Linked DNA regions of Homo sapiens: region 1 is linked to region 2. The links come from fine-mapping of genetic effects on gene expression. A gene starts in region 2. The other region holds a variant in brackets. All regions are shown on one strand. Distances are from middle to middle. Region 1 overlaps ATP8B3 (ATPase phospholipid transporting 8B3). Region 2 holds the start of ATP8B3 (ATPase phospholipid transporting 8B3).

Evidence for each region. PIP is the estimated chance that this variant, and not a neighbour inherited with it, causes the effect.
Region 1: its variant is the best candidate, but not a certain one, in a credible set for the expression of ATP8B3 in lung (TOPMed, PIP 0.76).

What each region holds. Positions count from the first base shown.
Region 1 is chr19:1,781,832-1,787,193 of GRCh38, forward strand. ATP8B3 (ATPase phospholipid transporting 8B3) reads right to left here. Exons shown (of 29, transcript NM_138813.4): 25 at 5,272-5,355; 26 at 3,638-3,877; 27 at 3,328-3,466; 28 at 2,988-3,115; 29 at 244-1,439. The coding sequence ends at 1,197. Among named protein-coding and RNA genes, the nearest start is that of ATP8B3, 28 kb to the right of the region's middle. The variant A/G (reference allele first, on the strand shown) is at 2,553.
Region 2 is chr19:1,808,883-1,814,244 of GRCh38, forward strand. ATP8B3 (ATPase phospholipid transporting 8B3) reads right to left here and starts at 3,394. Exons shown (of 29, transcript NM_138813.4): 1 at 3,304-3,394; 2 at 2,607-3,002; 3 at 1,740-1,801; 4 at 761-852. The coding sequence starts at 2,854. RefSeq lists enhancers at 2,902-3,647, 4,028-4,187 and a silencer at 3,108-3,477.

The sequences.
Region 1 (5,362 bases), 27 kb before region 2:
AGAACTGGAATTTATAAACTTTCTTGGGAGGGGCCAGCTGTCAGGCAGCGGGGGAGCCACAGCTTTTAATAAGCAACTTTTGAGAGCAATGAAGCTTTACCCACATTATCTTACCCCAGCATGAAGAAGGAAAGTTTTCCCTGCAAATACCCGGCTGGACCACTAGAGGTCAGTGTTTTGATTTTAAAAACCGGGAAGGAATATTCCATCACAAAAAAAGTGTAGGGAAAGAGGGAGCCTGAATTAGCGCTGGGGTCAGATGGACCCTGGTTTATTAGAAAAAGAAAAGCATGTGGAGTCCTTGTCTTTAGAGGAAGGCCCCCTGCATGCTGGTTGACTTGCAGCAGAACTGGCTGGAGCTTCTTCTTCCCAGGAAGGACATCTTCCTGATATGCCAGCGTGACTCCTTTGGGCTCGAAGATGCCTCTTCATCAGATGGGTCTAGGGATTCAGATGCTACGTCACTGCTGAACCCTGGTCCCCTCCGCAGAGGGCAATGACTGCTCCTCTGGGGGCAAGGATAGCTGCTCCTCCCCGGGCACCAGCAGCCACTCCATGGATGATGATGACTGCTTCTCCGCGGGCCACAGCTCCACCTCCATAGGCTGCTCGCTCGTGGACGTGGACGATTCTTCCAGACTTGGTGGCAGAGTCTCCACCTGAGATTTGTGGGTCTTGTCTGGAAGTGGCACCGTCCCCTCCTTGGGGGTGTGAGGCTCCTTTTGCCAGCTCTTCCGGAACGGTGTGGAGGGCTTCAAAAATGCTGACTTCTCCTCCGAGGAGTCTGGCTGGCTCTCCAACGTCAGCTGGCCTGAAAGAAATGACTGGCTCCCCAGAGGCTGTGGCTGGCTCTCAAATGACGACAGCTGGCTTTCTCTGTGCAACAGTGATTTCTCCTGAAAAGAATGTGACCTCTCCTTGGTCAACAGCAACTTCTCAGGAGAAGGTGGCCTCTGCTTGGGTGACAATGACCTCTCCTGTGCCCTTGGCAATTGCTCTTGGAAAGACTCAGATAGCCTGTTGCTGCTGGTGAGCACATATTTGGGGAGGGCAGGTTGGTTTTCTGGATGAAGAGCGGATTGTCTATCCATAGAAAATGATGAGCTAGGTGTAGGGGGGAGCTGTACTTCCTGGGAGGACACCTGCCCCTGTGGCTGGTGCTTCTTCTTCCCCAGGAAGGACATCTTCCTGAGGTGTCACTGTGACTCTTTTGGGCTCGAAGCTGCCTCTTCATCAGATGGGTCTAGGGATTCAGATGCTATGTCACTGCTGACCCCTGGTCCCCTCCGCAGAATTGTGCCCTGAGTGATGAGGTTTGCATATCCCTCACGGTGGGAGAAAGCATAGCTGGAACGGCGGGCACGAGACTCCCGGTGTACATGAGGCAAGGGCTCCATGGTGAAAATCTCCTCGCTGGGGCCCTCCTCCACCTTCTCCTCCTGAAGAGCAAAGGGGAGAGCAGGGGAAGCAGACTCCTATGCTTGGCTGATGGCTCTCAGGTCCCCCAAGTAGGAGAGGCAGGATTCAAAGCCCTTGGCCACTATTGATTGGCTACGTTCTTCCCTACCCAAGTTGAGCCAATTAGAGTCCTCGACTCTCAGTGTTGAGTTCTAAGGAGGACTCTAGTCCTTTGCTTTTCAAGACCCACTAATTGGCCTTGCCCTGGAAACTAACCCTGGATCAGCCAATCAGAGTTATTCCCTGGGACTTAACTCGGGACCACCCAATCAGAGTCCTTCCCTGGGACTTAACCCTGGCTCAGCCAATCAGAGTCCTTCCCCGACTCTGGACCAGCCACCAGGTGCCTTGGCTGCCCTTTGGTGGCAAATCCAGGAGAGGTGAGCCTGGGACAGCCAGGTGCCCAGCCTGTGCAGTAAAGGTGGCAGGAGCTGGGCAGGGAGAACAGAGGTGGCAGGGCAGGTACACCATTCCAGTCAATTCTGGGGCCCATCTCAGCTGCAACTTGCTTTTCCATGCATGCTTTGGTTACGTGGGCTAGTAAGTCCCCTCCCTTTTTTTTGAGGTGGGGTCTTGCTCTGTTGCCCAGATAGGAGTGCAGTGGCAAAAATCATAGCTCACTGCAGCCTCAACCTCCCAGGCTCAAGCAAGCCACCTGCTTCAGCCTCTCAAAGTGCTGGGATTACAGGTGTGAACCGCTGCGCCTGGCCTTGAGCACATGTCCTCAAGGTGCATCCACGCTGTGGCCTGTGTCAGAGCCTCACTCCTTCTCACGGCTCAGGCGTGTTTCATTGCACAGATGGAGCGTGCCGTGTTGACCCACTCATCTGTCAACAGACTCTTATTTCTAAGTTCCTCCTTTTGCCTAAACCATTTCAAGGTTGTTTCCGTCATCTCAACCCCCAAGCTCTAGATCATTCACGGTAGAATCTGATGGTGTCAGCCAGGCACAGTGTGGCTCATGCCTGAAATCCCAACATGTTATGAGGCCAAGGCAGGAGGATTGCGTGAGCCCAGGAGTTTGAACCAGCCTGGGCACCATAATGAGTCTCCATCTCTAGAAAATAACTACAAAATTAGCTGGGCGTGGTGGT[A/G]CATGCCCGTGGTCTCAGCTACTTGGAAAGCTGAGGTGGGAGGATCCTTTGAGCCCGGAAGGTCGAGGCTGCAGTGAGCCGAGATTGTGCCACTGCACTCCAGCCTGGGTGACAGCACAAGACCCTTCTCAAAAAGTAAAAATAAATAAATAAATAAAACCTTAAGAGCCCGATGGCATCAGCACTGGAATCCAGGGCGGCGTTTGGGTGCTCTCTGCTGCTTTGTCGGGGGAGTGAGGTCTCCCTTCTTGGGAAATCGGGCCCCGGGGGCACTGGGCGTGTGTCCGGGGCTCCGCACCCACCCTTCCCCCAAGCCTAGTGTCTTGGAGGGCCGAGAGGGGCCGGGACACCTTGCAGTCCCTACGCCCTGCACGGCTCCCCAACCAGGGTCCTGGAATGTACCAGATGAGGACCCCAGGCCCAGGCCCACCTCACCTTGGCACGTAGCTCCTTGAGGGCTGGGAAGATGACTCGGAGGGCCAGGACAGGGAAGGTGTTTATGGACACACTCAGCAGGACCACCAGCAGGATGGAGGGAGAGGACATCACGCTGAGGTCGGCATCTGGGGACAGGGCGGGGTCACAGCAGAGCCTACCCCCAGCTCCAAGGATGCCCCCAGGCTAGGGAGCGCCTTGGTGCCTTTGTGCCTGGTCCATAAAGGAGCGCCTTCCCCAGGACACTTTGCCGGACGACTGTCATGAGCAACCTGCAACCTCTTCCATCGGGGCTCCCCTGCACCACGACCGCCCGTCCCACTTCCCCATGGGGGCTCACACAGAAACGGGAAGGTCGTGGGGGATACTCTGAAGAGCCAGAAGCTCTGGGTGGTGGTAGTCATGATGGCGTAGAAACCAAGGCTGAGGAGGATGGTCGCCACGCACAGGGCGGTCCAGTACTTGATGATAAGAATGACCTGGACAGGCAGCGGTGGGGTAAATCCGGGGCCTAGCGGGGCTTGCACCAGGACACCAGCCCCTGGGGTCCAGGAAGGGCACCTGGCAATGCCCCCAAAGCAGGGGTCCCCAGGGGAGGAGGCCTCCATAGGCCATGTCCAAGGCCCCGGGGAGGTGAGGACCTTGCCCACCTCCATGGTGATGGACAGCAGGCAAGACAGGGCCACCACGACCGCAAAGGACTGGTGGTCGCTGAAGCTGGCGGGTCCCGCCGTGTCGCGGCTGATCCACAGTGTCATGAAGAAGTTGACCAGAGAGGTGGTCACACCATGGGCGATGGCTTGGACGAAGACCCAGTAGTTGAAGAGCTCGTCCTTCTGCCCCACCACGTACAGCTCCGGCTTCTCCAGGCTCTGCTCTGCGCTCACGTCCTTGGGGCAAGCAGAAGCTCTTGGGATTGGGTGGGGGGCGGGGGACACCCAACAGAGATCAGGATCTCCTCGGGCAGGCCAGTAGGGTGGCCACTCTCTGTGTGTGGCTCTTTGAGTTTAAGTGAGTTAAAATAAAGTAAGGCCAGGCACGGTGGCACACGCCTGTAATCTCAGCACTTTAGGAGGTCAAGGTGGGAGGATCGCTTAAGGCCAGGAGTTTGAGACCAGCCTGGACAACATAGTGAAACCCCCCATCTCCAAAAAAACCTTTTAAAGGAGCTGGGTGTGGTGGTGCGCACCTGTAATCCCATCTACTTGGGCGGCTGAGGCAGGAGGATCATTTGAGCCCAGGAGTGGAGGCTGCAGTGAGCTGTGATCGCACCACTGCACTCCAGCCTGGGTGAGAGAATGGGACCTCGTCTACAGAATAAAATAAAATGAAATGGAAAGAGCTCTGGAGGTTGGTCACTTGGCCACACGAACGCACTAGGTGATGCTGGGCTGTGCGCATGAGTCTGGCTGAGACGGGGCAGTTTACGTGATTTGTATTCCACCACAGTTAAAGATACCAGCAAGGCCAGGTGCGGTGGCTCACGCCTGTAATCCCAGCACTTGGGGAGGCCGAGGTGGGAGGATCACCTGAGGTCAGGAGTTCAAGACCAGCCTGGCCAACATGGCGAAATCCTGTCTCTACTAAAAATAAAAAAATTAGCCGGGCATGGTGGTGCACGCCTGTAATCCCAGCTACTCAGGAGGCTGAGGCAGGAGAATCGCTTGAACCCGGGAGGCAGAGGTTGCAGTGAGCTGAGATTGTGCCACTGCACTCCAGCCTGGGCGACAGAGCGAGACCCTGTCTCAAAAAAAAAAAAAAAAAGATTCTAGCAAACATGAAATGAGATGTAAAATCCAGTCCCTGGGTCACACCAGCCGCAACACAAGCGTTCCTCATGGGCACGTATGGCTGCTGGCTTCTGTGTTGGATTGCATAGCTGTGGGACACTTCCATCATCTGGAACGTTCCATGTGACCCACCCTCCCAACCCCAGATCACGTAGCCAGGGCCTCTTGGAGCTGGGGGATGATAAACCTAGCAGAGTCATCTGCTCTGATCCTCTCTCCCCATTGCATGGATGGGTAGACAGAGGCACGGGGGCTCCAGCACAGGGTGGGGGCTCCCACACACAGGAGGAGCTGGATGGCCCCGGGATGAGCGTAGGCTCCGGTGGGAGAAGGTCAATGGCAGTGGGCAGGGAGAGGTACTGGACTGCACCCCCTGAGCCCCACCCCATGGCCTGAAGGTCTCCCAGGCTCCCTCTCCCCGCCCCAAGGAGCGGAGGAGAGGAGGAGAGGCTAAGCAGAGACCTGGAAGGAAGACCCGGCCTTGCCCTGCTCACCTGCTCAAAGAGCCCAATGTAGAGAACTGGCAGGGTGCTGTACAGGAGGTTGAAAAGAGCCAGGAACCATCCTTCATACAGGGGCTGAGCC
Region 2 (5,362 bases):
AAAATATCGGCCAGACATGGTGGCTCACCCCTGTAATCCCAGCATTTCGGGAGGTCAAGGTGGGTGGATCACTTGAGGTCAGGAGTTCCAGACCAGCCTGGCCAACATGACAAAACCCCATCTCTACTAAAGATGCAAAAAATTAGCCGGGCGTGGTTGTGGGTGCCTGTAATCCCAGCTACTTGGGAGTCTCAGGCAGGAGAATCACTAGAACCCGGGAGGCAGAGGTTGCAGTGAGCCGAGATCTCGCCACTGCATTCCAGCCTGGGCGACAGAGCGAGACTCCATCTTAAAACAAAACAGAAAAAAGAAAAAAGAGGCTGGGCGCAGTGGCTTACGCCTGTAATCCCAGCACTTTGGGAGGCCGAGGTGGGTGGATCACCTGAGATCAGGAGTTCGAGACCAGCCTGGCCAACATGGTGAAACTGTCTCTACTAAAAATACAAAAATTAGTCAGGCGTGGTGGTGCATGCCTGTAATCCCAGCTACTTGGGAGGCTGAGGCAGGAGAATTGCTTGAACCCCGGAGGTGGAGGTTGCAGTGAGCCGAGATGTCGCCACTGCACTCCAGCCTGGGCAACAGAGGGAGACTCTGTCTCAAAAAAAAAAAAGAAAGAAAGAAAAAGAAAACGAAAACCAAAAAAAGAAAACTATCGAGCAAATACAAGCAGAGGCAGGACTCAGGAGGAGCAAAAAATAGATTCCCCGAGGGTACCACGGCAGCTCCTCTGGAGCAGGGAGGCGCGGGAGGGGCCGCCCACCTTGTATTTCTTCCTTTGCCAGCACAGGATCACCTTCTCCTTGAACTGCCCGTTGTAGGCACGGTTGTTGGCCTGGACCTTCCAGGTGAATGCTGCAGCGAGAGAGCCGGGCGTCGCTGGAGCTCGAGGCCCAGGACAAACACCCCTAATGACCGCCCGGAGGAGGGCTCATGGGGCCCGTGGGACCCAGGCACTGGGGAGGCCCGAGATGTCAGAGCCCGTAAACAGACAGTCGGGCAGCAGGCACCACCTGGGGACCTACCAGACCCTGCCCATAGTTGGCGCCGGCACAAGTGGATTCCGAGAGTGGCCACCCACACCCCCAGCCAGGGGCCTGTCCTGAGACGCAGAGAACAGGCCCTGGGAGACCGTTCAGGCCTGTACATTTTACAGAGGGGGGTAAACTGAGGCTTGGTGATGGGCTCTTGGGTGTCCAAGGCCATACATCCAGCTGGCGGCCCAGATCTTTCTGGGCATGCAGCCCCCAAATCCTGAGCCAAATCCCCCAAACCCAGTCAGTACTAGGGTTGGAGACTACTAGAAACCAAATGAGAATCCTAGGCAAGGCCTGACGTGCAGGTCTGGGGGCCCCAGCCCGTCTCAGCCTCAGCCCTGCACTTTTTTCTTTTTTTTGAGATGGAGTCTCGCTCTGTCACCCAGGCTGGAGTGCAGTAGCACAATCGCAGCTCACTGCAACCTCCACCTCCTGGGTCTCCTGGGTTCAAGTGATTCTCCTGTCTCAGCCTCCCAAGTAGCTAGAATTACAGGCATACGCCACCACGCCCAGCTAATCTTCGTACTTTTAGTAGAAACGGGGTTTCTCCATGTTGCCCAGGCTCTCGAACCCCTGACCTCAAGTGATCCACCCGCCTCAGCCTCCCAAAGTGCCGGGATTACAGGGGAGAGCCACCACGCCTGGCCAGCCCTGAACTTCATAATCCCTCCCACCTGCACCGCCCCCTCTGCCCAGGATCAGCACCTGAGTTCCTGTCCTCATCTTGGAGATCTTCTCTCTGGCCGAGGCTGCCCATGCTGGTGGGGCTGTGGGAGAGAAGGGCCCCGGGTCACAGCAGTGACCCCAGCCCTTGCTGGGCACCACTCGGTCTTCAAGGAGCTCACAGCCTAGGGGCCGACCCTCTCAAATGCTACCTCCCACACTCATCTGCAGCCTCCCCGCCAGGCTCTGAATGTCCAGCCATAGGCTGTGTGTCTTGCCTTGGACATCCTGAGACCTAGGGGACCCCAAGATGATCCTCAAACCTGCAACAGCCCATCTGCCAGTGTCCCCCGCCAGCCACCCTGGTCGCCTCCCGCCAGTACAGCCTAGAAGGACTCTACCGCCAGCCATGCCAGCCTCTGGCCATGCCAGCCTCCGGCCACTGCTCCCCACACCTCGCTTTTCCTGAAAGGACCACTCTCACCTCCTCCTGGTTTCACTGACGGCCTCCTGCCCCTCTCCCCATGTGGCACCAGCTTAGGGGCTCAGTCATCTGTTCACTGACTGAATGGGACCCCCGGGCTATATGTTATATCTCAAAACACAGCATGAGGGTCAGGCATGGCCACTCCCCTCCTCACCCCCCCAGGCTGGGCAGCAAACTCTGATGGGGGCGATGGAGGCAGACGGACATCGTCAGAAGATCCTGGAATCTTCTCCACTAGCAGGTTCAGGAATGTGGGTCTGGCTCTAGCCCTGCACCGGGGGCCCTGGTTTGGCCCCCTATGAGGATGGGCAAACCACCCCTAGACGCCAGCAACTGGCCCCCCACCTGCCAGCTCTCTAGCAGTGCCCTCCCCGCCAAGCCCCTGCCCCTGTGTTCCGGCCACCCGATGCACCCGTCCTCACCCTTCTGGTCTCCATTCATACTTCCTAGCCCGGCCAGGCTGGGCCTTGTGCCTCCTCTCAGGTGCCCCTCTGCCTGGGGAGTCTCCCATCCCAGCTCTGATCACCGTCTCACCTCCGCGGATGCCAGCAGGACCTGAGCCTTCCTGAGTCACGTCTGAGTCACCCGTGTCCCCAGGTCCTGGTGGGGCAGGGCTTGGCTCAGGGCCAGCTCTGGTGCTCCTGGGAGTCTGAGCGGGGCCAGTGCCCATTCACCGCATGAGGAAAAGGGAGGTTCAGGGCGAAGAGGGGTTTAGGCTGTGGGACGGGGGAGAGGTGGGGGAGACCCCCGTGGGGGCAGACTGGGGATTGGAGAGTTGGAGAGAATGCTCAAATGGCCAGAATCCACTCGAAGTGTATCTGGGGGCAGAAAGAGACACGGACACAGCGCTGGCTTCCTGCCCCCTCACTAACTGGGATGCCCCATTACTCGGAAGCCCCCCACCCCGTCTTCCCGCAGCCGCAGGGGCACAGGACCGCCCTGGACAGGGCTCCAGAGTCCAGGGCTGTCTGCACCCGCCCCGGGGCCCCGACCGCGCGAACCTCTAGGGGCGCGCTCTCCACCCCCGCCGCCACGACCCCAGCTCTCAGCCTGGGTGGAGCCCAGAGAGGGTGCGCGGGCTCCCGGGGACGCACAGCAGTGGGAGCACCCGCCGCTCACCGGCGCAGGAGAGGCAGGGGGGGGCAGGCCGCGGGCGTCCAGGGCGGCGGACGTGGTGGAACCGTTAGCCCGGTGCCAACGGTCCTGAAACGGGGGGCGGGATCTCGGGGCGGGGCCTCGGGGCCCGGCCAAGGCGAAGGTGGAGCCAGTTCGGACCCCGGAAGGGGGCCGGGGGCGGGGCCTGGAGGGGGTGGGTGGGGCCAAGGCGAAGAAGGGGCGGGGCCTCGAGGGTGGGGCCGAGCGGAGCACGGCCGAGCAGGATGGGGGCCAGGCCTCAGGGACGCGGTCACGGCCGAAGGGCGGGGCCTCGCAGAGCCTCGCAGAACAGGCCGGGATAGAAGACGCTCGGGAGCAGTGCCTGGGTCTGGGGAGGGGCCGGGACTTTGGGGAAGGGACTAGAAGGAAGGCGAGGACGAGCGGGGTCTCGCTGAGCAAAGTCAGAGTAGGGGCGGGGCCAGGACTCAGGGGCTTGGCCAGAGCGGGAAGCGGGGTTGAGCATGGCCTTGCGGAGCAGTGTTATGGTAGGGGCGGGGCTGGGATCCGGAGCCGTTACAAAGGAGGAAGGCGGGGCCGCGCAGAGCAGGGTCAGGGTAGGAGGGCGCTCAGGGTGGGTCCAGGACAGAAGGCAGGGCCTTGGGAGGGCCTTAGGGAGCAGTGCCAGTGCAGGGGCGGAGCCTGAAAGGGAAGAGGGTGTCAGGGCAGGGCCGGGCCGGGCTTGGTCAGGGAGCAGAAAGAACCTGCACCGCAGGGCGGGGTTGGAAGGGTTCTTGGAAAGGTGGGCCTGGGTCAGGTCGGAATGGGCCTTGCAGACCTGACGGGGCTGAGGCTGGTGCGGCCAGCGTGGCAGAGTGCAGGAGGAAGGACCACAGGTAACGGCGGTTATGTAAGTCATGTCTGATCCGTGTCCTGGGTTCGTTCATTCATCCCATACACGTTCAACGAGCGCCTCCTAGGCGCAGATGCAGGGCTGAGCACCAGGCTGGGGAGAGGCGGTTATAGCCATTGAGACCACCCTAAGGCCAAGAGGAAGCCCGCAGGGTTCTTTCCAGCAGGTGGCAGGGGCTCAGGGATCCTTACTGAAGAAGTGGCAGGGGTGAGTTCAGCGACGAGGCTAGGGCGGGTCCAGGCCAGCGATAGGGCCTGGAGCCAGGGTCAGAAAGTGTGTGCGGAGGGGCTGCTGAAGATGAAATGCCCCCAAGAGTGAGGCTACCTGGGGTGAGGGCCCAAAGGGAGAGGCAAACATGGGTGGAGGGGGATAGGGAAGCCACCTCCCCCATCAAAGCGGCAACCACCTGAGGGCTCTCGGTGATCACAAACCCTCTTTCTTTGGAAGCCCAAATTGGAAGCCTGCTTGGCCCTGGAGGCTGCCAGGGAACCTCTCTTTTTTTGGAGACAGAGTCTCACTGTGTCACCCGGGCTGGAGTGCAGTGGTGCGATCAGAGCTCACTGCAGCCTCCACCTCCTGGGCTCAAGCGATCCTCCTGCCTCAGCCTCCAGAGTAGCTGGGACCACAAGCAGGCAGGCAGGCCACTGTGTTTGACTTCTCTCCTTTCATTCCTTCAACACTTCCCCTGTGCTTGCTTGCTTGCTCAGTGGTTACGAAAAAAAGCCGGGGCTGGGAGTTTGAACACACTGTTCTAATAAACTTTAGAAGAGACCTGGTTGGGTGCAGCTGTGAGGACCAGATTCCCCCACCCCAGCCTTCGCAGGGGGCACTATCTGGGGGCAGGAGCTTGCCCAGGGCACTTGTGCAAAGGCCCTGAAGCCTCCAGTGGCAACAGGTGGCTTCACAAGCTGAAGGGAGTCCCTGGGGGCTGAAGCCAGGGCTGGCCAGCCTTGGGACCCCCCGTGGGCTATGTCCTGAGGCACCAGGTGCGTTCTGGGAAGGGGGAGGCAGACATCACATGGGAATGCACAGAAACAGAGCGCATACACGCCTGCGCCATTTATTTAGAACACAGAGCCGGGCACAGTGGCTCATGCCTGTAATCCCAACGCTTTGGGAGGCCGAGGCAGGTGGATCACTTGAGGTCAGGAGTTCGAGACCAGCTTGGCCAAC